Homo sapiens: one gene and its partners. The protein of the gene in region 3 interacts with the protein of the main gene of each other region in a pairwise test. Each region holds a gene or a part of one and is shown on either strand. Other genes may lie near its edges.

The links.
Region 1: the proteins of FDFT1 (region 3) and CLN5 interact in binary tests that used the Homo sapiens proteins (3 or more experiments, as listed by UniProt).
Region 2: the proteins of FDFT1 (region 3) and PANX1 interact in binary tests that used the Homo sapiens proteins (3 or more experiments, as listed by UniProt).
Region 4: the proteins of FDFT1 (region 3) and GLP1R interact in a protein complementation assay, tested with the Homo sapiens proteins (one study listed by BioGRID).

What each region holds. Positions count from the first base shown.
Region 1 is NC_000013.11:76,995,059-77,002,080, reverse strand, and holds part of CLN5 (bis(monoacylglycero)phosphate synthase CLN5), read right to left. Parts: intron 7,019-7,022; coding exon 6,853-7,018; intron 6,180-6,852; coding exon 5,954-6,179; intron 4,039-5,953; coding exon of another isoform or gene 4,010-4,038; exon of another isoform or gene 3,996-4,009; intron 1,624-3,995; coding exon 1,112-1,623; 3' UTR 1-1,111. UniProt on the Homo sapiens protein: Exhibits palmitoyl protein thioesterase (S-depalmitoylation) activity in vitro and most likely plays a role in protein S-depalmitoylation.
Region 2 is NC_000011.10:94,124,326-94,131,862, reverse strand, and holds the start of PANX1 (pannexin-1), read right to left. Parts: upstream 3,023-7,537; 5' UTR 2,551-3,022; coding exon 2,370-2,550; intron 1-2,369. UniProt on the Homo sapiens protein: Ion channel involved in a variety of physiological functions such as blood pressure regulation, apoptotic cell clearance and oogenesis.
Region 3 is NC_000008.11:11,797,911-11,805,762, reverse strand, and holds the start of FDFT1 (squalene synthase), read right to left. Parts: upstream 3,023-7,852; 5' UTR 2,931-3,022; coding exon 2,832-2,930; intron 2,686-2,831; exon of another isoform or gene 2,245-2,685; intron 1-2,244. UniProt on the Homo sapiens protein: Catalyzes the condensation of 2 farnesyl pyrophosphate (FPP) moieties to form squalene. Proceeds in two distinct steps.
Region 4 is NC_000006.12:39,079,775-39,086,796, reverse strand, and holds part of GLP1R (glucagon-like peptide 1 receptor precursor), read right to left. Parts: intron 6,100-7,022; coding exon 6,058-6,099; intron 892-6,057; coding exon 724-891; 3' UTR 1-723.

The DNA of each region.
Region 1 (7,022 bases), on a different chromosome or scaffold from region 3:
TCTTACTGAATGGTGTTTTCTCCTTGAATAGAAACGTGTTCAGTTGATCATCAAATACTTAAAGGACCTTGAAAGCTTGTCTGGCTCTAATTAAAGCACAGCTACTTGGTGATCTTAACAGAAACCTGTCCTCTCTCGGAGAAGTGCAACCTCTTCCACTGCGCTGACAGCTTTGTGGGAAGAGGGAGAACTACAGGAAACAATGAAGAAGTCAGAAGGTGCCTGTTTACCCAAACGTGTCTGCAGCCATGTTCCTGCATACCCCGGTTAGAAGAACCGCTGAAGCACTATGCTATCAGCTTAAAATCTAGGTGACTACAAAACCCTGGAAAGTTTGGCACATAAACTACATTAGGCAAGATCAAGGATGACATTTGTTCTTTGATTAATCATTATCACTGCCATTCAATGTGACCTGCCAAACATACACAACTTACATCTTTACAGCAATCCTAAATCCTAAGATTTAGTGATGTTAGTATGCTTAAAGAACACAAGCCAGTTACTAGCTAGTTCCAAAATCTCAGCCAGAAATATGTGTTAACACTGGATTTGCCACATCTAGAAGCACAATCACTCCAGTTATGGTGTCTAAACGAATGTCTAAAGTTAGGTGAATGGAATGTAATCAGACTATACTAAACTTGGTTCCAAAAGTTATAGAAGTTGTAAAGTTAGTCTAAACTAAAGCACTTAAGTGAAAAAGTGTAACTGCCATATCAGAAAGAAGAGCTCCCACCATGAAAATGTCACTGAATGTATTTTTTATTTTTGAAGGTATTTTTAAAATCTGGGCACACCATATCTATCTGTAGGACCCTGGGTCCAAAGGTCCTACATAACTGATATGAACCATAATTCTCCATATTAACAAAGGCTCGGAAATTGAAACCAAGATCACCTAACTCGCTCACTTTGGCCAATATAGTACGAATTTCAGCTTCTTTACAAGAGAAGAGTCCTGAGATGTTAATATGCAGCAATTCTGCTGATGTGCATTTTAACTTTATGCACCAAGGAAGAAAGGCTAAGGAATTCACAAAAGTAAAATCACCCCCTGAAAAACAGATGCTGGTGATTGGAGAAAAAAGAGCAGTAGAATTAAGGTGTTTTATAAACCAGAGAGTGTTTTGTTTCTGATAGGTAAAGGGATTTCTTCATATGTTATTTTAATAAAAGGGAATTTCATAGGTAAAAACCAATATTCAAAATTATAAAACAAATAGAACTGTTTGTGCACAATCACTGCATCAAAAATTTGCAAGAGACTCAACAGAAATTCTTTAGTTGGCAAATGTGGTTTGAAGGGGTAATAAAATCTTTTTATGGCTAAACCAAGAGTCTTGTTTCCTGTTGGCCCAAAAACAGATGTTTCATTTCCCAGATAAGTAGGTTCTCCACTGTAAAGAAATATTCTTGTATAGTTGGTTTCTATGTTCTTGAACTCTGCTCCAAATTCAGCCAACTTGTTAAAGGTCCTTAACACAAATTTGGAACAGTCGTAGGAATCAAACCATGTCTCTGCCCCCTTTTCTGGGCTGGCTTTTACATTCCATGTCTCATAATAAATTCCTGTTTCATTGTCCTGTTTCACCCACTTTGCCATTTGGTTGAACATGTTTCCTAGTTTAAAAAAACAAAACAAAGTCACCTAGTGAACAAAGCTAATCATGTTAATTTTTTTTTTTTTTTTTTTTAAGACAGGTCTCCCTCTGTTGCCGAGGCTAGAGTGCGGTGGTAACATCACAGCTCACTGCAGCCTTGACCTCCTGGGCTTAAGTGATCCTCCCACCTCGGCCTCCTGAGTAGCTGGGACTACAGGCGCTGGCCACCAAACCCAACTAATTTTTTAATTTTTCTTTTTTTTAATTTGAGACCAGCCTGGGCAACACGGGGTCTTGCTGTATTGCCCAGGCTGGTCTCAAATTCCCAACCTCAAGTGATCCTCCTGCTTCAGCATTCTAAAGCACTGGGATTATAGGTTTGAGCTACCATGGCTGGCCTAATCATATTAATTTTAAGTAAAATGTTCTAACTTGATTAAGACTGGATGCCTGAGTAAACAATGGTTTTGAATTTCCACACCTGCATTTCACAACAGGAATCCAAGCTCAGCCAATTTTATTCCATTCTTCAAGGCACAAGATATTTCTGAATTATAAACATTAGATATAATAGGTGTATAAGGAGAAGTCATCTTACATACTAATTCTATAATCATTTAAGCTATAGTCAAAGCGAAATTATACAAATGCAGAAGCTCTCTTTCTCTACCCAACTCACCAAATCTTGGATTCAGAGGCAAAAGAGAAAAGGAAAGCACAAAAAGAATTGCGAAAGAGGAAAAGCAGAATGGGCAAAGACAGTGTAAGGAAAATGGAGGTGTGGGAAATGTGGAGCTTCACTGTTGCAAAGCATGCTACACATAAAGTATGAATGGCTGCCTGAGGAGCCACTGCTCTAGAAGGCTGGCTATTACTGTTATGAGAACAAGCACCATACCCCATCCACCTTGTGTGTTTGGTACGTTTCTTTCTTCCCTGTACTTGGAGTTGCTGGGATGCTGCTGATGACCTCTCCACCTGCCACGTTAAGTCCTTCCAACAAATCAACTAAACTGGAAATGTTTTAGGCCGAGTTCATACTCCAGGATGGCTAACCCTCTCTTCTACCATCTTGTACTAGACCAGAAGAATCTTTCCAAATATTCAGAAAACACTACTCTGCATGGTTACAACTCTCATCTTGGGCATTTATAATGCCTAATAGAACTGGGCCCCAAACACTGCATCCTGTCACTGTGTGCAAACCTCTTTGGTTACTCCAACTTGAGTCCATAAAATAAATACTTCATGTTCTGTAAAATGAATAGAGTGACTGCCTTTATCAATTTTATGGAATTAAAATTGTAGAACAGAATAAAGCCTGTTGTATTAGAACTGGGGATACTGTTCTTAGCATTCTTCAACTTTCAAATGCCACCACTATCCTTATGAGACAAGAATGCTTCAAAACACTATTTTGTCAATCACAGGATTATTCACAAGGCAAATAAATGACTTAAAAGATTTAAGTACTGGCATATTTTGAACTATTTTACAAAAAATAGTGATCACTTATTCATATGATCATTGACTTTATGTCAGAAGGAAGGATTTTCAGATAACGATGTAGGTGGAAATGGGGAAAGGTGTGAACTGGCCTGGAATGAAAGAAAGAACCGCTAATGATGGACTTTTGTATTGTTGGTATGGTTTAAGGCACATTGATTAGAAAGTAGCAGGAAATATTAGAAAACAACATGGTGCATTCGGCTAACAGATCCTTGTTACATTTAAAAGACCTCAGTTTTATTCCTGATTCTGCTACATCCAGCTCTTTGACCTTGAGAGGCAAGTAAGTCATGTTACCTGGCTGAGCCTCAATTCCTTATTTGCAGAGAATGAGTATCTTATCCTCTCCACTGAACCGTGAGTTAACATACCTCCAAATCATTTGTAAAGAGCTATACAAATAGGAAGCATGATTACTTCCTCAAGTCCTGGGGTTCACTGAATAATTATTGTCACAACAGTGCTTTCATTTCAGATGTTTCTACTGTTCTGGGGAACAGCAATTTATAATGTAATGCTTCATAAATCATATGGACAAGCTCCTTACTTCTCAAATGCTATGGTATATTGTCTCCATTTTGCACATGAGGCAACGGGCCAATAAGATATAAAATGTGACCCAAGTCACATAAGGAGTTACCAATGAAAGGATTGCTGAACTCTTTTCATTACTAACCAACAATGCAGCACTTGCAACACAATTCCAACTTTCAGCAACTTTCCAATACATCCAAAAGAAGAAAAAAATCTCAAAGATAAAATATTTAAACTGCTCAAGAGGGTCTCAAATATAAGATCATATACATTTTGGGAGGCAATGTATCAAAGTAGTTAGGAGAATGGGCAATGGGGCGTAACTGCCAGGGTTGGAGTCCCACTTACTAAGCTGTGTAACTTTAACCTCTCTGTGCCTCAGTTTCTCCATCTGTAAAATAGGCAAAATAATAGTTACTACCTCCAGAAGTTGTGATGATGAATGATGTGATGTATGTACAGTACTCAGAACAGTGCCAGAACCAGTCTATATTAGTAGCTATTATTTTTCAACATAAAAATATCATCACTAAAATTTTTTTCAGATATAGTTAACATATCCTTTAATCAGGCATTTTATGGATTTCTCTTACTATTTCGTTTAGAAAGACCAATTTAATTGTACAAAATGTTTTATCATTTTATTCATTTTTATGATGGGAAAAGAGCATTTTTAGGGAAACATTCAAAGATCAGAGATAAGCTACTCATCACCAACAGGTGAAGTTCTGCATGAGTAATAGTTTGGGTCAGAGTTTAGTGGTTCCACCAAAAGCAAATGCAACAAAAACAAATATAAATAGATGAGACTTAATTAAACTAAAAAGCTTCTGCACAGCCAAAGGAACAATCAGCAGAGTAAATAGACAACCCACAGAGTGGGAGAAAATCTTTGCAATCTATACATCTGACAAAGGACTAATATCCAGAATCTACAAGGAACTCAAATCAGCAAGAAAAAAACAATCCCATCAAAAAGTGGGTTAACGGCCGGGAGTGGTGGCTCACACCTTTAATCCCAGCACTTTGGGAGGCCAAGGTGGGCAGATGACCTGAGGTCAGGAGTTTGAGACCAGCTGGCCAACATGGCGAAACCCCATCTCTACTAAAAATACAAAAATTAGCTTGGCATGGTGGCGGGCGCCTGTAATCCCAGCTACTTGGGACGCTAAGGCTGGAGAATCGCTTGAACCCAAGAGGTGGAGGTTGCAGCAAGCTGAGATTGTGTCATTGCACTCCAGCCTGAGCGACAAGAATAAAACTCCACCTCAAACAAACAAACAACAACAACAAAAAGGCGGGGTGGGGGTGGCTAAGGACACAAATAGACAATTCTCAGAAGATATACAAATGGCCAAGAAACATGAAAATGCTCAGGGAAATGCAATGATCAGGGAAATGCAAATCAAAACCACAATGTAATACCGCCTCACTCCTGCAAGAATGGCCATAATCAAAAAATAAAAAAAAATAGATATTGGCGGGATGTGGGGGAAAGGGAACACTTCTTCTCTGCTGCTAGGAATGTAAATTAGTACAACCACTATGGAAAACAGTGTGGAGATTCCTTAAAGAACTAAAAGTAGAACTGCCATTTGATCCAGCAATCCCAGTACTGGGTATCTACCCAAAGGAAGAGAACTCATTATACGCAAAAAATACTTTCCCATGCATGTTTATAGCAGCACAATTTGCAACTGCAAAAATATGGAACCAGCTCAAATGCCCATCAATCAATGAGTGGATAAAGAAAATGTGGTGTATATATACCAAGGAATAATACTACTCAGCCATAAAAAGGAATGAAATAATGGCATTTGCAGCAACCTGGAATAATGGTCTCCAATTCCATCCAAGTGAAGTAACTCTTCAGGAATAGAAAACCAAACATTGTGTATTCTCACTTGTAAGTGGGAGCTAAGCTATGAGGATGCAAAGGCATAAGAATGATTAACTTTGGGAAGTCGGGGAAAAGGGTCGGAGAGGGGTGAGGGATAAAAGACTATACATTGGGTACAGTGTACACTGCTCGGGTGATGGGTGCGCAAAAATCTCAGAAATCACCACTAAAGAACTTATTCATGTAACTTAACATAACCAGTTCCCCACAAACCTATTCAAATAAAATAAATAAAAAATACAAATAAGAGATGAAAAAAATTCCCAAAGTTTAATGGTTCCAAAAGTACATTTTACAAATGACCTCTAAGTAAAACATTACTGAAATGTTTCAATGGAAGTATAACAATTTCTTTCATTTGGTTTTTGATGCAATGATCAAATATTGCTATATTTTCACAACTTACCTGATATAGTTGCTACTTGAACTAATGTCCCATTTTCCTTCCAGTGAACATCATCAATTCCCTCAAAAAAGCAGGCAGCGCCTTGATTACACCAGAAAGGGGCATCCATTTCAGGTCGGAGATGGGGAAATGTACAGTTGCCAAGTTGGAAAAGTTCATACCATTCCATTGTGTAGTTCTTGCCAGTTAATGTACTTCTGAATCCAATGGCATCATGCATAATTTTCTGTGTAAAGACAGTACATGTATAAAAGCAACTGTGACACAACCATGGGTCCAGGTAACCTGATAGGAGAAAATGTGGCACATCACAAATGCATATCAAGTAGAACAACTGTTCAGCTGTTCTTCCATGCTGCTACTGTCATATCCACTCTGTGGCCCCAAACTCCAGGCCCTCATCCACCCCAGCTTTGGCCACTACACCCCTATTTGGCTCATCTCAAATAGGAGGCCTGCATGTTATGTGGACAAGCTGATAATTTCCTTAGAGCTTAGAATAAGTGTGAGGAGCCCCCATGCCAGTCTCTGGAAGCAGCTCTACAGACCTCACATGGTGATGGGTTAACCTGGAAAAGTGACTACAACAGAGTATGGAAATCAAGAGGTGTTACCTGCCTGCCCTGCCACTTCTGGGCCTCTTCTCACCTTCCAGGAGCTAGGTACAGGAGCTGGTTTCAGATTCATAATATTACAATGGATAATGGTGATTACATTTGTTGTTGTCAAGATTACAAAATCTGATAGTAACTATTTTTGACTACTCATTTTAAATGTACTAAGACAAACACCAACATGATCTAAAGTCAGCCATCTAAATAGTGATTACTCCTTAAAAATCAACTTAATAACCAAATCATTGAATTAACCAAAGTTATAAGACCAAGATGCATCCTTACCAAGTGTCCCAGGAGGTCTCCATATTTAAATTCCCATACTGGGGCTTGTAATCGAAAAACTTCAATGTCATCATCACCCTCCATAACTGGGATAGGTGAGCCAGTTGGACAGAAAGTATACTTAGCTTGACAATAAGGATCAGGTTTTGGACGGAAGTCAAAGCGCCTAA
Region 2 (7,537 bases), on a different chromosome or scaffold from region 3:
TTGGTTTGTTTTTGGCTGAGTGCATACTACTAACTACACAAAATTAAATGCTGCATGACATGATCCCTCCCACTGTACCAACTCCATGTATTAATCTATGTACCTCTCCCCTCTTCTCAAAAGCCCTTCTTCTGGTTTTATCTAAATGTATACCTAATCTAATAGGTCTTCCCTGGTCCTGTTAGCTTCATCCCACATGTCTGTCCTCCCCTGGAACTCCTGAAAACACTTCAGAAAACATGGGAGTCTGCTTGACAGCTCCTCACCCAAGTGCCTGCCAACCTTCACCAGCCTGGAGCTCATAGCTCAACACCTGGCTGGGTGCTGAATTACACACAGCTGAATGACTTACCTGCTAACAGATACCTTCTAGTGCCCAACTGCATAGTAAACTGCCACAGGGCAGGGAGAGGGCAGGGCAAGAACAAGGTCTCAAAATCCTTTCCCATCTCCCTCAGCACACAACAGTGCTATGCACACAGCATGAGCTCAAACTCTTGCTAGTTAAAACCACTCCCAATACCCCAAAAATACCTCTCAGACAGCCCACCAATTTAGACGTATCTAAGGCATTACAGGTACAGGTGCCTTAGGAGTCCCTCTAGTACATGTGCTAGAGGTGGAGATTGGTCACAGAGGGTGACTAACTCCTTCCTCCTGCCTTTCTGTCCCAACCAGGTACCCAAGACTTGCACCTCCAAGACAGGGATCATGCCTCTTTTACTCCCGGGTCCTTGGAGGTCAGCACCGAGTTCAGCACACAGCCAGTACTGAAGGAGGAATTGACCAAAGGGAGAGATTATCTCCAGGACTCATGCTACTTGGTGGTTTTGCTTTCAGCTGGAAGCCTCAATCCACTGTCAAATGGAAACTTAAAGAACATCCCGATGACTATGCCTGCGCAAAGAGCAGGAAAACTAAAAACTATTTTCCACAATGAATTTGGCAACTTCCTGCCAAGCTGAACAACTTAGTGCTGCAGATTGCAAAATCACACTCATAGTCATTCTTTCCTAATCAACTATTCCCTCAACTTCACAATTCCCATCACCACCAACACCACACTCCACTCACCCAGACATACAACCTCCGCAGCACGTTTGACCAGTACTGCCGTTCATGGCCTATTAAATACTAGGTACTCAAGTGCTGCTTATTTACTCCTTGATCGCACAGCAATCACCCACCCATTTTCTTCCACTCTTCACACCCTCTGTGCACAAGACCTCAGCCGATGCCTTGCTCTCTGGCACCCAGCCCTCCAGGCCCCATCCTCTCACCTTCTTCCCAGACCCTAAATGCCACCATCATTCAACCAGTCTGTCCTCTGCTCAAACAATAACTTCACAGTTCTGAAACCATCAGCCTACACTCTTCTGTTCCAGGCTGACCCAGGCCCATATTCACTCTCAGACTCCAGGAACTCTGACTTATCCTCCTGCCTTGGCTAGGAGAGTCACTGTGTCTCTCTTTCCAGGAACATATAACATTCTCTGCCATCTCAAAACCTTAACAAAGGTCTTACTCCTTCTTGTCCAAATCCCACCCACCCTCTGACAAAAGTTTTCCCAAAGTCCAGCCGCACTGGGTCCTCTCTCTTCCCCTGCCACAGAACTGTATTTAACCCTCCTGCGCTACCTTCCTGTTGGTTCATAAACACTCTCTCCTGTGTGGAGAGTCAGAACAGCTGATGAGGAAGGTAAGGCACGTAGCCACGTGATCCTGCCCAAACCACCAGACTTTCCAATCTCACACAACTGTTATGAAGCTCAAATGATAATTTACAGGAAGGGGACTTGTTCATCTCACATTTGTAAGACCGTCCAAGTTGAGGATCCCTCTAATGCCTGCCAAGTGCAGATATTTCCTATCATTCACAACCCTAGAGAGCTAAGATCTCAGCAAATACCAATTATATGTAAGACACTGAAAGAACACACTTCTCATGGAGCACCGGTCTTCACATCCTCCATGTAGCCACTCAGGAACTTCTCTGGTGTAAAATTTTAGGCGGCTGGACAAATATGTAGGAGACAGGGGTGAAAAACGGGGACACAGCTATTCTTGGCAAATCTGGTGGCAAGGTGCCAGTTCTAAGGGTGGAACATAAACTATAAGCCACAGTCCGATCAGAGGGGCATGAGGAACAAAAGAACTGAGGAGTAGGGATGCGAGCAGAGTAGACCAGGGTACCAATGAAACACCTGGGCAAAGAACGCTTTGGACCATAAAACTGGGGCCACTGCCCTTCCTGACGCTCACGACCATCACAGCTGGGCGTACCCAGACTCGGGCCTGTGAGCCGTAAAATCGCAGCTCACCGGGCCAGACCGGGGCGGCCACTCCCCTCCGTCCTGGGCGAGGCTTACCAATCGAGATCTCCTGCGCGAAGGCCAGCGAGATGAGCAGCAGGGGCAGCCCCACCGCAATGCACGTGACCATCTTGTCCACAGCCAGCTCCAGTCGCAGCCCCTTGAACTTGGGCTCCGTGGGCTCCTTCAGCAAGAAATCCGAGAACACGTACTCCGTGGCCAGTTGAGCGATGGCCATGGCTGCGGCGCGCCAGGCTCGACCAGGAGGTCCGGGTACAGCCGGCGTCGGGAAAGCTGCGCGGCGCCTTCACCCAGTCACCGGCCGGGCGCGCGGCTTTCGCTTTCCCTTTGCCTGCTCCCGCATCCCGCCTGCCTTTGTGTCTCGGTGCCTCAGGCTCCCAGCGACTCCGCTGGGCTCTCGCGCTCGCTGCCTCCGCCGCCGGCGGGGCGGGGCGGGGCGGGAACCCGAGAGCTCCGCTTCCTGCGGTTCCACCCCGCACGCCCGTGCAAGTCCCCGGGCCGCGCGCGGCACTCGGATTCGCGCCTCTCCCGCGCACCCCCAGGCGCGGGAACCACGCGCGGAACAAAGCGCTTCCCTCTGGCCCTGCCCCTCCGCGCCGCCCTGGCTGCCGAAGCGGCCGCCGGGATAGCCCTGCGCTCACAGCCAGCTGCGCCGCGCTCTTCCGGAACCATGCGGGGAAACCAAGTACCCAGGGGCGTGGAGCTTCCGGAAGACGCGGTGACGCGGGGCGGGGTGGGCGCGGCTGCATTCCGCGCCCCTCGGGCCACTCTCTGACAAAGGGATTTTCCCACTGAGCGGCACCTTTGGAAATTCTCCCGTCCCTCCCTGCCGGATTCTCCTCACGTCCTGGCACCCGGGAGTTTTAAAATCATTTCTGCAAGCGACTCTTTCTGTGGATGGGATGGCCCCCTTTACGCCCCACCCCCAACATTTCCAACACGGTGAAATCGGGTTAGAAGGAGCTGCAAAAGCTTCAAAGAACAGTCAGTGCCATAAAAGGCCAATCGAGCGGTGTAGACCGACGGTGCCTTGCAGAGGGAGCGCTGGACCCTTCCAGGAGCTCCGCGTGAGAGGGTGGCGCGGAAACGGTAGTGAGTGTGGAGTTTCGAGGCCTGAGTAGCGCTGCTGGTCCCGTTTCTCTTTCCTCTGCCATCCCAATCAGAGCCTTGTTCCGGGAGCCAGCAGAGAGAGGGGGGCCTGCAGGTAGGTGGGTGTTGGGGCTGCAGAGAGCTGCTTCTGAACAGCTCATAGGAAGTGGATGATGGAAAGACAGGAGGAAATACTCTGACCAGTGTCCACGGAAATTAAGGCTGTTGAAGTAGAAATAATTTGATTTATTGGAAGCTAAATGTGAGGATCCACCCAAGAAGACTTACCAGCAAAGTTGGGCATGTTTCAAAATTTGTTACACGTTGGAAGGGTTTTAGAAGAAAGTTTAGGAAAAGGGAGGAGGACCCCTTATATCAGAGGTGGGATTTTTTTCATCGGAGGGTATGGTACACAGGTTACAGTCACTGGCTGCAGATGACAACATACAGGCTAAAATGTTTTGTGCACAAGAAAATCAAAGTTTATATGATTCAGAAACAAGTCAGTGTTCTTTTCAATGTCAGTATTTTACATACTAATCAGTACATCAGCAGTTTGAGGAACTGACAAAAGGATTTGAAGGACTCACAGTAAGATTTTTTACTCAGGGACAGGATCTAAGCCATGAATCATAAGACCTTTCTTAGATGGCTTAGTTTGGAAGCCCTGTCAAATGTGACATGTAGGTTATCACCAGTAACATTTGAAGCAGGCAGGACCTGCAAACATGAGGGCTCCTTGGGGCAGGGCTTGGCTCCCTTCTCTGTGGGTCCACAGATACAAGCCTCAACTCCCACATGTACCTCTCCACCCCAGCCTGGCCGCTAAACACACATCCAAGAGCGTATACAGCTCTCTCCGCGTAGATGGCTCATAGGGCTTCAAACTCATAACGGCCAGGACTTCAGTCTTCATCTTCCCCTTAAACCTGAACTCCATCTTCCCCATCTTACTAAATGTACCACCAGCCACCTGTGCACCCAAGTCGGAATCCTGGAGCACCATCTTCAACACTCCATTTCTCACAGCTGCCATAACCAATTTTCAAATTCTCTTGCTTCTCTCTCCTAAATATAGCAAATCTGACACCCCTCCACCTGCACTGCCAATACCCAATTCAACTCACCATCCTGTCTCCTAACCACATATAGGAAATATGTGAGACAGGGTCCCCCTCCATTCTCCTCTACAGCTGCCAGGATGAGCTTTTCAAAACTCCAGTCGGATCATCTTTTCTACTTAAAGTGTACATTGTTTTTAGCATAAAATACAAATTTCTTAGCATGGCCTCTGCCTACCTCACCACCAGCTTCACTGCTTTCCTTTCAGTTCTTCAAGTTAGCTAAGCCCTTGGCCTCCTCCAGGCCTTCCCACCCAAAACACTCCCCACAGTGGCCTCTTTGCCTGGCCCACCTTTATTCACCCTTCTGGCCTCAGCTTGATGTCACTTCCCTGGGAAAGCCTTCCCTAAGTAGACAGACTAGATTAGGTCCCTTTGTGAAATTCTCCCATAATACTAGCCACACTAGTTACTAGCTATTAGTCTTGGGGAGTTCTTTGACTCTCCTGTGTCTCAGTTTTCTCATCTGTAAAAAGGTTGTACCTCTTAGGACTGTGATAAGGACCAAATGAGTTAACACGTGGGTAGTGCCCAGTGCCTGGCACCTTGTGAATCTAGGTACATTTCATCTGTCATTGTTCTCTATTTTTCCTTCTTAAAAATAGTCACCATTGCAACTCAACAAATATTTATTCATTTATTTAGTGTTTGCCACCACTTTATGTGATCGGCTTCTTGAGGGTAGGCCCATGCCCATGTGTACCACTTTTATCCTCAACACTTAGCACAAATGCCTCACACAGAGTTGATGTTTTAATTCATATTATTAAATAAATGTCTGAAGGAATCTGAACACTTTTTAAAACTGGCCCAGTTCACACTCATTTATCCATACATTCCAGGCATATATTAGAGGCTGGTGATGGGCCAGTTCTGGGCTCAGTGGATGGGGAAGCAGAAATGAAGTGAATGGATTCCATTTCCTCAAAGACCTTATGGCTTAGCAAGAGAAATAAGGCATGCACACAATTAACTATAATGCAAGGTAGAAAGAGTGATTATTGTGAAAAGTGGGGTATACCAAGGGAGGTGCAGAGAATAAGTAGGGCCTGGGAGAATGTGTCAGTTGGGACATTCAGAGCTGGGACAGGGGCTTTCTGGGAGTCAGGAAATCATGGGTGCCATTTCCCTTCTTTCCTTGCCAAAAGCTAATCATCCGATAGGCTCAAATGGCCCCTTTTTAGGCTCAAATGCCCCCTTTTTAGGAAGCCTTCCAGGATCCTCCAGTTGTAATGAATCCTTCCCTCCCTTGTTACTCTCTCCTCTGGCCTAGAAGTTAGTTCATTTTGCCTCCTGTGATGGGATGATGGATTGTGTATCTCTTTTTTCATTACATAGCAAGTTCCTCTGAGGATCTGGAGTGAATCTCAGCAGTTGCATAAATTGCCCTCAGTTTTGGCAATTTTTTACATTCCATATGATGTTATCCTACTTTTAATGAATTTAAAATAGAAGCCAGATGGAGAACTTGTTGGAAAATAGTGTGTCCGGAATTGATTCCTTCTGGTGGGTTCTTGGTCTCACTGACTTCAAGAATGAAGCCACGGGCCCTCGTGTTGAGTGTTACTGTTCTTAAAGGTAGTGTGGACCCAAAGAGTGAGCAGCAGCAAGATTTATTGTGAAGAACAAAAGAACAAAGCTTCCACAGCATGGAAGGGAAGCTGAGCAGCTTGCCGCTCTGGTGGCCAGCTTGTATTCACTTATTTGGCCCCGCCCACATCTTGCTGATTGGTCCATTTTACAGAGCGCTGATTGGTCCATTTCACAGAGTGATAATTGGTGCATTTACAAAACTTTAGCTACACACAGAGCACCGATTGGTGCATTTTTACAGAGTGCTGATTGGTGCATTTACAAACCTTTAGGTAGACACAGAGCGCTGGTTGCTGTGTTTTTACAGAGTACTGATTGGTGCGTTTACAAACCTTTAGCTAGACACAGAGCACTGATTGGTGTGTTTACAATCCTCTAGCTAGACAGAAAATTTCTCCAAGTCCCCATCTGACCCAGAAGCCCAGCTGGCTTCACCTCTCAATCCCCCCTCTAAACAGGACACCCCAACTGCTGTTGGGAATTGGGTGATGACTGCTCTAGCTACTTCCTGCTGGATAGGAGCAAAGAAGGGGCCCTGCAGTTGTAGTATCCTCCAGAGGGGAACTCTTTAGGCCAGTGAAAGGACCAGCGGGTCGGTCCAGGGGTCCTCGGTAGAAGTTGTTAGTTGAGCTCATTTGGGGTTCCATTGGTAAGACCATCTGTAGCTTGATGGCCTCGATCCTAGAGGAAACAAATTTAACAAGGAGTTTAAAAATACAGGGCCCGAAGGCAAGTAATAGTAAGATGGCTGCCATGGGACCTAGAAAGGGGAGAAGCCATGTTGCCCAACTCCAGAGGTTGGTATAAGAGTTTGAAAGGCATTGTCTGATTTTGGAAGCCTTTTCCTGTAAACGCCAGGTGGCATATCATACTATCCCTGAATGGTTAGTGTGAAAACAACACTCTTCCCCTAAGAAGGTGCACAGTCCTCCTTTCTCAGCAGTGAGGAGGTCTAGGCCTCGGCCGTTTTGGAGAGTCGCTGCTGCCAAAGAGTCTATTTGGGATTGTAGAATAAGGATAGATTTCGTTATCTCTTGCAAACTGTCTGAGAAATCCTTTGAGAGTGTGTGGTAGTAGGATAATGAAGTAGATAAACTGACTATTCCGGTTCCTGTAGCAGTAGCCATTCCTAACCCCATAAGTAGGGGTATTAGTTGTATGGCTCTGCACTAACAGACTTGAGCTTTGAGGGGTACTGATAGGGTCTGATTTCCTGGGGAAATGTTAATGTCGGGACTTAGAAATACTAAGGTGCAGGTGCCTTCCAGTTAGTGGGGTGGCAGATATAGTTCAACATTCCACATAAGAAGAATATACCTTGGCTGGGTAGACAGAACTGGTTGTGTATGTTATAAAGGTGTGTGAGTTTATTGTTTTCATTTTCCTATACTCCTAGAATAC
Region 3 (7,852 bases):
TAATTATTTCTTTAGCAAAACATTTGAATATACTAAGTGGGATGAATGAAGCCTCAACTTCAAGTCAGGTTTTGCTGCCAAGTGATTCTGAGCCAAACACTCAAAAAATTCTTTTCAGACCATCTTAGAGTTGGGAAGTTGTGGTTAAAAAATCGTTACCATACATACATCCCTATTTTACAGATGAAGTAACTGTGGTTCAGAGGTTAAGTTACCAAGGTTGTTCACCTAACTTAATAGCGTCAGAAATCGGACTTAATAACAGACTTAAGATATTAGTCTAAATAACAGGATTTAGATTGGACAGGAGCCAGATCTGCCTGATTACTAACAGCCTGCTCTTTCCATTACTCTCGGCTTTTGGGTGATGCCACACAACTTGCAGGCGGCATATGCCCGTAGATTTACTGATATGCACCTAAAAATTCAGTGTAAATCAAGTTTACTAAACCCTGAAATTCTATAGCCAAATGCTTCTGTGATAGAAATAATCAGCCCTCAGTATCTGCTAAGCGTAAATTTTTTCCCTAGTTTGCAGAGAGAAACTGGTTGGGTGCAGTGGCTCACACCTGTAATCCCAGCACTTTGAAGGCTGAGGTGGGAAAATCGCTTGAGCTCAGGAGTTCAAGACCAGCCTGGGCAATGCAGCGAGACATTGTGTCTACAAAAAAATTTAAAAATTAGCCATGCATTGGTGACACGTGCCTGGAGTCCCAGCTACTCGGGATCAGGAAGCCGAGGTGGGAGGATGGCTTCAGCCAAGGAAGTCAAAACTGGAGTGAGTCATGTTCAGGCCACAGCATTCTAGCCTGGACGATGGAGTGAGACCCCCCCCTCAAAAAAAAAAAAAAAAAGGCCGGGTGCAGTGGCTCACGCCTGTAATCCTAGCACTTTGGGAGACCAAGGCGAGCAGATCACTTGAGGTCAAGAGTTCAAAACCAGCCTCACCAACATGGTGAAACCCCGTCTCTACTAAAAATACCAAAAAATCAGCCGGGCGTAGTGGCAGGTGCCTGTAATCCCAGCTACTCAGCAGGCTGAGGCAGGAGAATTGCTTGAACCCAGGAGGCGGAGGCTGCATCTAGCTGAGGTCCCGCCACCACTGCACTCCAGCCTGGGTAACAGAGCAAGACTCCATCTCAAAAAAAAAAAAAAAAAAAAAGAGAAACTAAGATAATGTTAAGTGAAGGGAAATGTATTTTTCCAATTTATTTCCCCTAATTAAAGGTTCAGGTATTTTTTTAACGGCTCATGGGGATGTAAAAACTGCCCAGAAAGACTACAACTAACATAACAAATACTGCACCATATTATCAGAGCTAGAATAGCTCAAGTCTCGCTTTTAAAAAAACTCAAAATGTACAAAAACAGTATACTGTGAAGTCTTTCTCTACCCACTTACCATGACCACCCACTTTCCCTCCCAACAGGAAACCAATGCTACCATTTTCTCTAACAGTCTTTCTGTAGAAAGGAAAGAGACATAGAGGAATGAAGTCTGGACCCAAATGAGGTCTGACTGCACTCAGATCCCTTGCCCTGCTAGTATCTTCCTCTGCAGTGCTTTTCTCCACGTGAAAAACTGTACATTCGCTTTCTTAAATTGTCTCTCTTCCACTAAAAAGTAAGTTTTATAAAATCAAGGTCTTCACCTAGCTTGTTCACTGTTGTACCTCCAGCACCTAGAACACTATCTGATATACAACTGGTCGTCAAATATTTGTTAAATAAATGAATGCTATATCTAAATATAAAAAGTGACATCTGCCATATCAAATAATAGAAGTTATTCTGTAGCAAAATAATTCAAATAATGTAGCACCGGCAAAGAAAAGATGAAGAAAACTGAATGTTCTACAAATAGACTGAAGGATGTACCTGTATTAAAGATAGCACGTGAAAAATAACACCAAATGAGGGTGTAGTCTACTGGGGACAAAAACCAGAAATTTATTTTCTAGTGTGTTTACTGAAGCACATGGACACTGAAAGAAAGACTCCGATGTTCAGGCACCTATCAAGCCTCGGCCTGAGTCACATTTGCTACTGTCCTGTTGGCCCAAAAAAGTTACAGAAATCAGCCAGGCTGGTCCAGACCAGAAGAACTTGGCTGAATTTGTCTATTCATTCAATAATCGCGTACGAATAATTTTCTTGTTGGAATAAAAACACCTCCTATGCATTCATTAAACAAATAGTACAGGCATGAGGCAGATAAAAATCTAAGTAAAACCAAGTTCTGACCTTCCACCAACCACCTAGCTAATCCATAGACGTTAGATAACTCATTGGAACTTGGAAGCGTAGATAGGCGATTTTAAAACTCAGGAAGCACCGAGGATGAAGCGATGGAAGGCAGCAAGGCGGGGAGAGCTCCGGAAGAGGTGGTGAAACTGGAGGAGTCAGACTTCATTCCAGAAACGGCCTTCATGTGATGTTATCTGCATAGTTCATTCCGCTTACCAAAAAACTCACTCGTCCTCTCCCGCGTAACCCACCCACATTGCCTCAGATGTGTAACCCTCGGGTTAAAATACCGGTAAGCGCCGATGCTCACGGAGGGGACGAAACGGGGAGCGCAACCACCGGGAACCACGCAAAAGTCGCTCATGCCCAGGGCGGCTTGCGGGGGCAGGGACAGGTCAGCCAGGACGGCCGCGTCCACCCGGGCCCTACAGGGGGAAGGCTCGAGGAAAGGGGGACGGGAACACCCAGGCGTCGGCCCTGCTCGCCGCGCCCCTTGCCCCAGATCCGGGCCCGGCCGCTCAGGCCCTGAGGCCGGCCCAGCGAGCTCCTTCCCCGCCCCGGGCAAGCAGGGAGGCTCGGCCCACCTGGTCCATCTTGGGCATCACCTTCCGCTTGCCCCCGATCCGGAAGCGCACCAGGTTGTAGAACTCTTCGGGGTGGCCAAGGCATTTCACGAACTCCATCCTGGCGCAGGCGGCGGACTCCCGGGCGCGACTCTCACCTCTGCGGTCCCCAGGCGCTCACCGGCCGGCTGGACCTGTGGAGTAGGTGCTTCGAGGGGCTGGCCGGACAGGGGGCAGGCCTAGTACGGCGACGCCCCGCCCGCCGCTCCGCCCACTTCAACCGGCCTCGGCCGCCAGCGGGGCTAGCTGCGGCCTCGTGGGGTGGGCTGACGGGCGCTGATTGGCCAGGGCCGCTCACACTAGGAAGACCCCGGCCAATCAGTCGCGGAAGGAGACTGGCGTGATAACACTCTAGAAGCTCATTGGAGGCCGAGAAAGAGGCCGACGAGCGGGATTGGTGCCCTGATGGAGCCGGGCCTTTGTTTTCTTCCGCTTACCCCGGCTGGGAGCGCGAACGCTGTGGGGACTGGAGGTGAGGCGGTGGGGCTTAGGATGCGCAGGAGCCCAACGGTGGTCCGCAGTCGGGAGAGCAGTGCGGGGCTGCTTCCTCCCCACTTGGTCAATAAGTCGCCCACGTGTCCGGCCTCGGTGGCTCCTGCCAGCCGGGTGAGCTCTGCAGCCGCTCTCTGTAGAGCCTAAAACCGTGAAAAGGCCGGGCCAGCGCCAAGCTGGGCGTCTTTACTGTAACACACCCGAGCACAGCCCAGCTCGCCTGCCCGCCACCGCCATCCAGCCCCAGGGAGCCCCACACACTCCTGGAGCTTCAGCTGCCCCCTCTCTAGTGTTTACTTGAGATCCAGCTTAGTCCTAGAAAAAGGAGCTGAAGCCTTAGAGAGCCTGTAACAGGAATGTGGAAACTTCTCTCATCCTAGATCTCTCCAGCCCTAGAAACTACTGGCTACCCGTCCAGGCGTGGTGGCTCACGCCTGTAATCGCAACACTTTGGGAGGCCAAGGCGGGTGGATCACGAGGTCAAGAGATCGAGACCATCCTGGCCAACATGGTGAAACCCGTCTCTACTAAAAATACAAAAAAGCCGAGTGTGGTGGTGGGCGCCTGTAGTCCCAACTACTCCGGAGGCTGAGGCAGGAGAATCACTTGAACCCGGGAAGCGGAGTTTGCAGTGAGCCAAGATGACACCGCTGCACTCCAGCCAGGCCAACAGAGCAAGACTACGTCTCCAAAAAAAAAAAAAAACCTACTGGCTACCTAAGCCATCCTGCAGTCTGTTTTAACACAGCAACCAGTAATCCTTTTAAAACCTGTCAGGTCTAGCCGAGCGCGGTGGCTCATGCCTGTAATCCCAGCACTTTGGGAGGCCAAGGCGGGCGGATCACCTGAGGTCTGGAGTTCAAGACCAGCCTGGCCAACATGCTGAAACTGCGTCTCTACTAAAAATACAAAAATTAGCCAGGCATGGTGGCAGGCGCCTATAATCCCAGCTACCTGGGAGGCTGAGGCAGGAGAATCGCTTGAACACAGGAGGCAGAGGTTGCAGTGAGCTGAGATCGCGCTATTGCACTCCAGCCTGGGGGACAAGAGCGAGACTTCATCTCAAAAACAAACAGGAAACCTGTCAGGTACGTTCACTGCCCAAAGCTGTTCAGTGTCTCTCCAACAAAAGCCAAAGCACCTATAGGGATCCTGAGAGGCTGCAGCCTTCCACCCAGATTACCTCTCTGGCCTCCATCTCTTATGCTTTTGCTTTCTCTGGCCCTAGGACTTTTTGTCTAGCTGTTCACTATTCCTGCACTATCCCCCAGATACTGGCTTGACTAACTCCTGTGCCCCTCGAGTCTGCTCACACCTCATCTAGACCCACCTGTTTGCCCTCTCTCACATTTCCACCACTGCTAATCCCAGTGGGGGTCTACTTGCCTATATTTACCATATTCTAATACATCATTTACTTATGTATTAGATTACAGAGTGTTTCCCCTACTACTGTAAACTAAAAATCCTAAGTCCCTACCACTGGACAGCCCTCCCACTCCCCACCTCGGCCAAGGGAACCCCAGAAAAATCTTAAAAACTTAGTTTCCAGCCATGACGGTATAAAAAGTAAAGTAGAGGTTCCTCTTCAAAGACTTTCCTCCCCATTTAATTAGGAATAAATAGTAACTTCTCTTAGAAGCAAACTTTATTCAAAGACCTGTGCTAACATTCTTAAATATCTGCTAGCTATGATAAAGAAATCAATGTACTTCATGTTCTTAGCTCTCACAATTTAGCCTAAATATTTGCCCTGGCATGCTTATAGTGGTCCAAGAAAGCATTAGGTCATAGCCTGTTCCTCTTCCTTATTTGAAGGTGTTTCAACCTTTGTCACCATTCCACAAGTTACTTCCTCCTTCCTTTGTTCTCCTCTACCTTTGCCTCTTTTAAAAACTTCTAAGTTGCTAGCCAATCGGGACAAATACAGAACGTGAGGCACCGTTCCAGCCAATGGAAACTAGACACAAGCAGTGGGGTGGACGAGTCAGGTTATAAATGACCCTGTCTCCTTTGTTTGGTATACTCCCATGGCAAAACTGCTGGCGAGTGTACCCTTTCTGCAGGAAGTAAAAATGGCCTGCTTAGTAAATTAATGTTCAAGCGCCTTTTTTTTTTTTTTTTTTTTTTTTTTTTTTTTGAGACAGAATTTCACTCTTGTTGCCAGGCTGGAGTGCAGTGGCACAGTCTCGGTTCACTGCCACCTCTGCCTTCTGGGTTCAAGTGCTTCTCCTGCCTCAGCCTCCCGAGTAGCTGGGATTACAGGCGCCCAACCACCACGCCTGGGTAATTTTTCGATTTTTAGTAGAGACAGGGTTTCACCATGTTGGCCAGACTGGTCTTGAACTCCTGACCTCATGATCCACCCTCCTCGGCCTCCCAAAGTGCTAGGATTACAGGCAAGCCACTGCGCCCAGCCTTCGAGTGCTATTTCTTCTTCATTTTTTTTTTTTTTTTAAATGGAGTCTCACTCTGTCGTGAGGCTGGAGTGCAGTGGCGCGATCTTGGTTCACTGCAACCTCTGGCTCCCAGGTTCAAGTGAGTCTCCTGCCTTAGCCTCCCGAGTAGCTGGAACTACAGGCATGTACCACCACGGCCAGCTAATTTTTTTATTTTTAGTTGAGACAGGGTTTCACCATGTTGGTTAGGATGGTCTCAATCTCTTGACCTCGTGATCCGCCCGCCTCAGCCTCCCCAGGTACTGGGATTACAGGCGTGAGCCACGGCTCCCAGCCTACAAGTGCTATTTCTTTCCAGCACCAGGGAAAAAGCATTTCAAATAACGGGACAGGAGATCAGATAGCCCTCATTGTACCCCCTTCCTTTTGGAGTTCATACACAACTGGCTGGCATTAACATTAAAACAGAGATCATAAGACTAACGGAACAGACTCTGTGGCAATAAGATACCCAATTATAAACAGGACCTAAGGCCATGCAGGCAATGGTGAAGTCAGGCACCCCTACACTTGAAGAATCAACTAAGCTCTAACTGCCACAGGGCTCTTCTTTTTCTCCAGCAGCTAAACGCTGGCCTTGAGATAAGCAATAGTAAAACACCTGCAGCTCCACCAGACAGTGACTAATTGAACCCCTGTTCCACCAGCCATAACTACAGCTTTGACTGGTCAAGAGATTGATCTCAGTAACTTTCTCCTGATAAGACCGCCGACCGTGGACTGGTCTGGCCAGTTTACAGAAACTGTACACTCAAGGCGCCTTCCTGTCCTAAAAAGACCTTTTGACCTATAGGGTGTAATTGTAATGCATTCACATGTTGAGTCTCTATCCCAAAGTGAATATGGGTCATATATTACATACATGTTTGTTCAATGTGTCAGGTCCGCCATCATAAATATTCGTAGCTCCTCTTGTAATCTGTTAAATATGTACGTTTAGCCAACCCAGTCAGCATAAAGCTCCTACCTCAAACGCCTTTTCCTTCAAAGTGCCCGTCTGTGGTCTAAGCTGGAAGCATGCTGTAACCCTTTAGAAGAAATAAAGGCTCTTCTCCCTTTCTAAATTGATAAATCATATTTTTTAAGTCAACACTAGAAATCTAAGCTCAGTGACGACACACCTTTGTTTTGCTCACTAATGTCCCCTCAACCATCTGGAATAGTGCCCAGCACATACTGGCTCAATGAATATTTATTGGGTGCTCAATGAGTATTTATTGAATTGAGCTGCGTATAGGACACGATGGTGCCTAAACAATGCAAAGTTAGTTAACGTGCCCATTCTTTAAATCTCTCTTCCATTAAATCTGCTTCTCCTGTGGATAGCGTTAACAGCCTCTCAGTTTTGTAATCACAAAATCCAGGTGTCATTGATAACGCCCTTTCTCTCCTTATATCCACCCCTTCAAAATCATTCATCAAGTCCTGTGGAGTCCAAGAAAACAAATACCTTTCATTTTAATCTCTCCTCTCTGCTCCATCTTGGTTTAAGCCACATCTTCTTTCCCAAACCATGTTGAAGTTGACTTCCCCTGTCCTTTCCCATATGGCAGGTAGAGTTATTCGTCTAAAACACACACTGGGCTGGGTGCAGTGGCTCACACCTGTAATCCCAGCACTTGGGAAGACCAATGCAGGCGGATCACTTGAGGTCAGGACTTTGAGACCAGCCTGGCTAACATGGTGAAACCCCGTCTCTACTAAAAATACCAAAATTAGCTGAGCGTGGTTGTGGGTGCCTGTAATCCCAGTTACTCGGGAGGCTGAGGCTGGAGAATCGCTTGAACCCACGAGCCGAGATCACCACACCACACTGCAGCCTGGGCAACAAAGTGAGACTCCGTCTCAAAAAAATAAAAAATAAAAACACACACTTGATTATAATCCTTCCATTTTAAATTCCTCCAATGAAATGTCTTCGAATCAATGGATTGATTTAAAGGAAATCAAGCCTTCTGGCATAGAATAAAAACGTCCTTGCCATTTGGCATCTACATCCTTTGTTGGGATTTCAGCCTCCTGTCCACCCAT
Region 4 (7,022 bases), on a different chromosome or scaffold from region 3:
ATGGCAGAGGCAGGCACCAAAACAACTCAAATACCTGGAGGAGAAGCGAGCACCGTCTCAATGCTCATTCTTTCTCAACACCACCTACAGCCATTTCCAGAAACAGCTGCTGGCAGTGGCCCAAACAAAGCCCCTCAAAAAGAAACTGGGCAGTGAGATGAGGGGGCAAGATGAGGGAAATAAGCAACCCAGACACACAAACAGCTTCCCTTTGAGAGAAGACAGGGGAGGGTGGTGACCCCAAGTGATGCAAGCAGAGGAGGCTCCCGTCACTCCCGCTCTGTGTTTGGCTGAGGTTAGAAGAGCCACTTTCAGAACCACCTCCTCTTGCAAGCCCCAGTTTCACTAATAAGCCGTTGACCTTGAGTTTGAGTCTGGGGTTGATTTGCGGCTCTGTCTGGGGGAACCCCAAGGGCCTGTGGTTTCACAAGAAGCAATCCTCCTCATTTTCACAGCGATCGTTTTTCCTCTCCTCTCGCCACTGTGATCAAATTAGGAGGCTGCTTCTCCTAGGAGAAAATGTGTCCATGGTCCCAGGAGGCACTGCCCATTTACCTGTCTGATGGGTTTGGGGAGGGAAAGCAGGATGTATGTGTGTGTGTGTGTGTGTGTGTGTGTGTGTGTGTGTGTCCCTTCCTTCCCTTGTCCCTGGGAGTGTCTCTCCCACCTGGATTGGCCACCCGGCCTGCAGCAAGGACCCCAGGGAGGGCAGGCGCTGGAGTCTCAGCTGCAGGAGGCCTGGCAAGTGGCTGTGTACATGCTGCTGCCCGCCGTGGCTCCACTGCTCAGGCTGCTGGTGGGACACTTGAGGGGCTTCATGCTGCTGTCCCTCTGGATGTGCAAGTGCTCAAGCCGCCAGCGCTCCCAGCTCTTCCGAAATTCCAGCTGGACCTTCCATGGGAAAAGGAGGGAAACGAAAGCCATCATGCAAACCAATGGCTAACAAAATGGCCCCACTATTACATTAGTGGGGAAGGGAAGAAATCCACTGCATTATATTAAGAGACACAAGTCAAGGCCTTCGGGCTCCTAAATTAATATCCCAATAAAATTGTTTATTGTTGTCTCCTATTTTCTGCAGCTCCTCAGGAGAGAGATCAGCTTGATGACCTAATTGGTCTTTTCCATCTCTAAACTCTGTGATTCAGCTAAGTACCTTTTACAATCCATCACAGTATTATTTAACGGAAGAGAATGAGAGGGAGGGTGAAACACAGGGAGACAGGAGATGGGAGAGAGAAGAGAGACTCTGTCTTTACAGCGCACAGTCCAGTTTCAGCTTGGATGCTTGAGAAGGGGGACGGCAACCCCCAGCCTTCCTGGTGTCTACAGCAGACCCTTCTAAACTCCCTGAGGGCTTCTCTCCAGGCCCCAGCACCTCACAGGGGAGGAGGGAGGGAAGGAAGGAATGTGGCTGAGACGGGAAACAGCAGGGAGGAAGGGGCAGCCAGTGAGGGCTTCTCAACTGATGCCATCTAGAGAGACACTGCAGTGACCATGGGGGTGCAGCCCAGGGGAGCTCAGTCAGCCAGGATCCCTGTTGTGCTGGGCTCTGGCCTCCCCATCAGGAAAAGCCTCTCAGGAGGGCTGATGCTTGGGGGCCAGATTGTTGGGGCAGAAAGAGACAAATCCAAGTAACACTGTGGAGCCCCCATCCCTTGAGGGTTTGTGGCAATGCTGTGGCTCCCGGTGGTGGCCAGTGATTCTGGTCCCTGGAGAGGCCTAGCTGGAACCTGCCAAGCTAGTCCTGGGGGGTCTGGACTGCTCTTCTGGGTGATGTTCCCATACATTTGCTTTCCAGAGCTTCTTTGAAGTCCCCACCCTTCCCACACCAGAGTGTCTGGGGTCTGGGCCCTTCCCTTTAGGCCAAGTCACCAAGACAGCCAGATGCCAGCGGCTGTGGATAAGGGGCCAATCTCCCCACCAGCCCCTGTGCAAACAACCCTCCTCTCCTCCTTTGTCGTCCATCCAGCTATGCCCAGCAAGACGCCTGGTATGGCTGCATGCCATCCCTTAAAAGAACATTTTCTGCACTGAGTAGAGTTGAGATGGCCCAGAGGCTGCCTGCCAGGATGACGCCAGTGTCCCATGCAGCGTCATGAACCCAAGCTTGAGTGGGGGAGGGAAGGAGGCTGAGCAGACACCACCTACAGCCACCCTGTTGTATGCCAGCTCCCTGCCCGGCTGAGTCTTTGTGAAGGGAGCGCATGCTGACAGCTGGGATGGGGGCCCTGAGTCCAGTGGTGGCCCCCACTTGTGCAGCTGCCAGGAGGCCAGGCTTGTTTCATAGCCCTTCCGCTGGAGAGGGGGGGAAAGATGGTAAACTGAGGCACACCTCCGGGAAACCAGAGACCAAAGAGAGGTTTCAGGGACACCTATGGGACTTCTCAGGGTGCTGACACACAGTGTCTCCTTCTGCCCCCATCTCCTTCAGCACTTTTCCTGAACCTCTGCTGTGACCCCTGTAATCACGATTGTCCTTGAAAATCACCATATTTATTGGGCACTTACTGTATGCACAGAATTTTCCATTAATTATCTTAGCTGACTTTCACATCAACCCTGCAAAGTAGCTCCACATTTAAAGATGAGGAAACTGAGGTGCAGAGTGTTTATTTCCTCAGGTCGCTCAGCCAGGATTTGAACCTAGATCTGGCCTGATTCCAATGCCCGGCTCCTAACCCCTGGCCTCCTGCCTGCGTGGCTCTTGCAGTCCTGCTTGTCCCTGGTCCATCTCCTACCTCTCACCTGGGAGCACCTCGAGGGCTGGGACCACATCTTCTTCATCTCAGCATCCCTGAACCTAGCACAGTGCCCAGCATACAGCAGGTGCTCAGTACATGTGTTTTAAATGAACCAAATGAATGAACACATAAATGCATGAGCATCTCACATCAGGTTCCTTCTGTTCCTCAGCTATGAAAATGAACCCACAAAGACAACACCACAGATTCTGAGCACCTGGGCTGGGACTTAGGCCACCACACTTCCTCCTCCACCATCGGATTTTTATCCTCATCCCTGCCCTCGACCTCTGCAGTGCAGCACACCCCTCCTGACCTCCCTCTCCAGCAGGCACCATGCCAGCCTCAGGATTCGGGGTGAATTGGGAAGCTCATTCACCTTCATTTACGGCTGGGGAGACAGAGGCAAGGGAGGCAAAATGACTTGCCCCAGGTCACACAGCTCGGCAGTGGCAGGGCTGGGACAAGCACTCAGGGCTCTGAGTCACCTCACTGTGGCTCTCAGGCACAAGCTACAGCAAAACCACCTTCAGGCCTCCCCCTCCCTGTCCCCACTCACGCCCACCAGCAGCTGGTGCAGGCCTTGGCAGCCACACAGAACCAATATTCAAGCCATCTTTTCTCCTCAGGTCACAAGTACCTGGCATTGCCATGGCAACCCTGGGTCTGCAGAACAGCTCTTGTGGACAGAGGCCTTAGCCCCAGAGCCACATGTGTCTTTTGTGGCCCAGTGACAATGATGTATCTGTCCTTGTGCCTGGAGCAGCCAGGGCATGAGGAGTCTCAGGGTGGGTTTAAAGGAACTGGCTGGTGCTCTGAAGGGAGACAGGTTCTCCCGTTCTCTGAGCAGGGTCTCCTGGACCCCGTGGCACTAGCCTGGAAGATCCACGGGGAGATGCTAGCTGGGGTCTGTAGCCAGGCCTGGTCAGAGAGGTGCAACCCTGGTGATTCAGGATCAAGTTTTTTTCCAAGGGCAAAGAAGTACTATCCCCTTACAAAGGTGGGCCAGCCATAGGTGGTGCATGAGGAGGGAGGTGATGAGATGACTAGGCTTGGAAGGATGGAATCTGGAGAGGCAGCTGAGCCAGGGGTCAGGGGAGACTGTTCACAATGGCGGGGGGGAAGCCAAGCACACGTGTCTGCTAGTAGGGCTGCAGTGACAGTGTCAGAGGATAGAGAAGTGAGAAACGGGGACGTGGGGGGGTCAAGATGACAAGGTGGCAGCAGGGAGCCTCAGTCTCTCCCTACAGGCCTCTGCTCCTCATCCCCACACAGGATACATGCCACCCTGTCTTGCCCCCATCACCACTGGGCTGGAATGGAAAGCAGCAGAGCTCAGGGCTGGGTAGCGCATCACCCAGCTGGCTGAGAGCATTCCTGGAGGGGAGGCCACCCACAGAGCTTAGGTTTTTGCACTTCCTCGTTTGCATCAGTTTTAAAGAAACTCATTTTGAGGATATGGCAGTGGAGGAGGACCAGGACTGCCTCCTGTGGGTCACGAGCCTGTTCCCTGCCCTACCCTCCAAACGGAGCCGCTGGGTCCTCTAAGACCTGTCCCAGGAGCAGCCAGAATCCCATTTATGGGCCACTCTTTGCCTGGCGCTGCCTTCACCTCCCCAGCACCTGCTTCCCTGAGGCATTAAGTGGGATCTTGCCCCCGCCACAGCCCACTAGCTCTACCATCTTCTGTCTATTGAATTAGGCTACTCATTTCATTTTGCTGAGGCTTAACGTTCTTAGCTGTGAATTGGGGATACCATCTGCTGCACAGCATTGGATGTAATGAGACACTCTGAGCACCTTATATGCAGTAAACCCTTAAGAGACCTTGGTTTCCCTCCCATTTAGAGATCTGAGGGCCACACTTCCCACAGGTAGCCAGTTCAGCAGAAGCAGGGGGAGGCCTCAGGGACAAGGGAACATTCCCCTCCCTTCCCTTTCACCCAGCCTCATTTTCTCTGCACGGCATCCTCTGAAATTCCTTAGGCCCCTGTCTCTGGGAATCACTGAATACTGATCTAATAGTGATTGCTTACTGAGCATCTGGAGATAATGGTGTGTGTTTCTCCATGCCAAGCAGCACCTGTGAGGAGCTAGGATGGGCCTTCAGCATCCCACCTTGAAGGAAGGACTTGTTCTCTGTTCCCCTTTCGCACCTTTTTCAGACTTTCTTAATCCTCACAGGATTATCCCCACTTTGTAAATGAGCAAACTAAGTTTCAGAGTGGGCAGGTAACTTAGGCAAAGTCACACAGCTCATTAAGTGATGGGGCCCAGATCAGACCAAATAAGATGCCAAAGCCTGCATCCTTGCATCTTTTCTGCTACATCACATTGCTTCTTTGAGCCATCTCATAGCTCCTTGAAACACCCAGGTCCCCACCCACTGTCCTTTCTGCATCCCCCACACCCATAGAAAAAGACAAGCCTATTAATGTGCTGACTCCAACATCCCTGAGCTCTGGGATTCCAAAGCTGAGTACCTTGGTGGAAGGGGCCTTTTCCAGGTGCCCATGAACACAGCCATGCCCTCCTCCCAGGAGCTGACCATCTCAGGGATGGGAGGGAGGCCTGCTGTCCTGCAGACATTTTCAGGAGAGTGTGTGGGGCCAGCGAGAACCCCCTTCTCCCATCCTAGCACCAGAAAGCCACCCCCTTCCCCACAGTGAGCCAGGGCTCTTGCCTGTGTGTATGAAGAATGGGGTACTTTCTGCTTTAATGCAGAATTAATTTGAATCCTGGCTCTGCCATGCCACTATTTCCACACTTCACCTTAGCCAAAAGGCTAAGAAGCGATGTGTGCCACTATTTCCAAACCTAGGGCAGGTTCCTGACTCTTTCTGATCTTCAGTGTTTTCATGTATATATAAAAAATGGGAATATGAAATAAGAATTTTAGCAGGGTTTTTTTTTGAGGGATGTGGGGGTCATAATTAAATGAGATAGTGATTATTAAAGCCCCAAGCATGTGGCTTGGGTATGTGTGTGTTGAATCACTTTGTAAGTGACAGTCACTACCACCAAGCAAAGAGGGTCATTCAGGATCCCCTTAACATGAGTCTGGGTCTTCCTTAGGGTCACATGCCATTAGGGTATACCTGTACATGTACTTGTGTGTGTGTGTTCATGTGTGAGAGAGACCATGCACAGAAAACCAAATCTGTGGACAAGATGGCTTCTCAACCCTAGTGCCTCAGTGAGGTGAGTAGGGGGTTTCAGCTGGCAAGATTGATGGGAGTCCCCATTGTACTACTCCAGACGGGCTGATGGTACCCACCCACCAGGGTCCCCACCGTCCCTCCTCAGAGCTTACCTCATTGTTGACAAAGCAGTATAATATGGCCACCATCAGCCCCTGGAAACAAGAGTCACATCAAGAGGGAGGAAGCAGGAGGGAGGTGCCCTGCAGACTGGCCCTGGTCGGAAGCACTTTGGGACTCCATCCTCAACAACCCCCTCCCCAAATCCAGCGGCCCAGGCAGATCCAGGAATGGGGCAGTGGCTTCCCTCTCATTTCCTTTCTGAAGGAACACCAGGGTTGCACCTCTGCGACTAGGCCTGGCTACAGGCCCCAGCTAGCCTCTCCCCATGGGTCTCCCAGGCATGTGCCATGGGGTCCAGGAGACCCTGCTCAGAAGCTGCCCAGAAGCTGTAGAGATCCTACATCCAACCTCTCCTTGAGGAGGCCTGATCCAGTGAAGTACAATGACTCTGATCATGGAGAATATTCCCCACTCCAGCCCCATCTGTTCATGAAGGAGACCCAGGGCTCCAGAATTGTGTTCTGTATGTCTGCACATGTATGTAAATACACACACATGAGCCCACATGTGTGCAGGCATCTCATGACACTCTTGAGGGGCAGGCAGGGACCAGTTTTTTTGTATTTTTACACCCCCTTAGCATCATCTAATGCTAGTGGAGAGGATCAGTTCTTTTCTTTGAAACTGTGACACCGTAACTCTGGTTTTAACACCTCTGAGTCTCCTCTGTAAAGTGAGGCTAACCCTGCACATCTCCTGGGTTCTGTGAGGAGTAAATGCACAATGCATGTAAAGCACCTGGCAGGGTGCTCGCCACCAAGTAGATGGCAGCTGCAATGCCAGGCTGGTACCCAGAGCTACATCCAGGAAGGCTTCTTGTCCCATGTGCTTACAGAGAAGACTGGCCCAGGTATTGGGACACCTGGGGATACTAGTTCTGGCTCTGCTCCAACTAGGTGACTTTGGGCAGGGATCACCCCTCCAGGTCCCAGTCTTCCCACCTTTTCCATCTGCA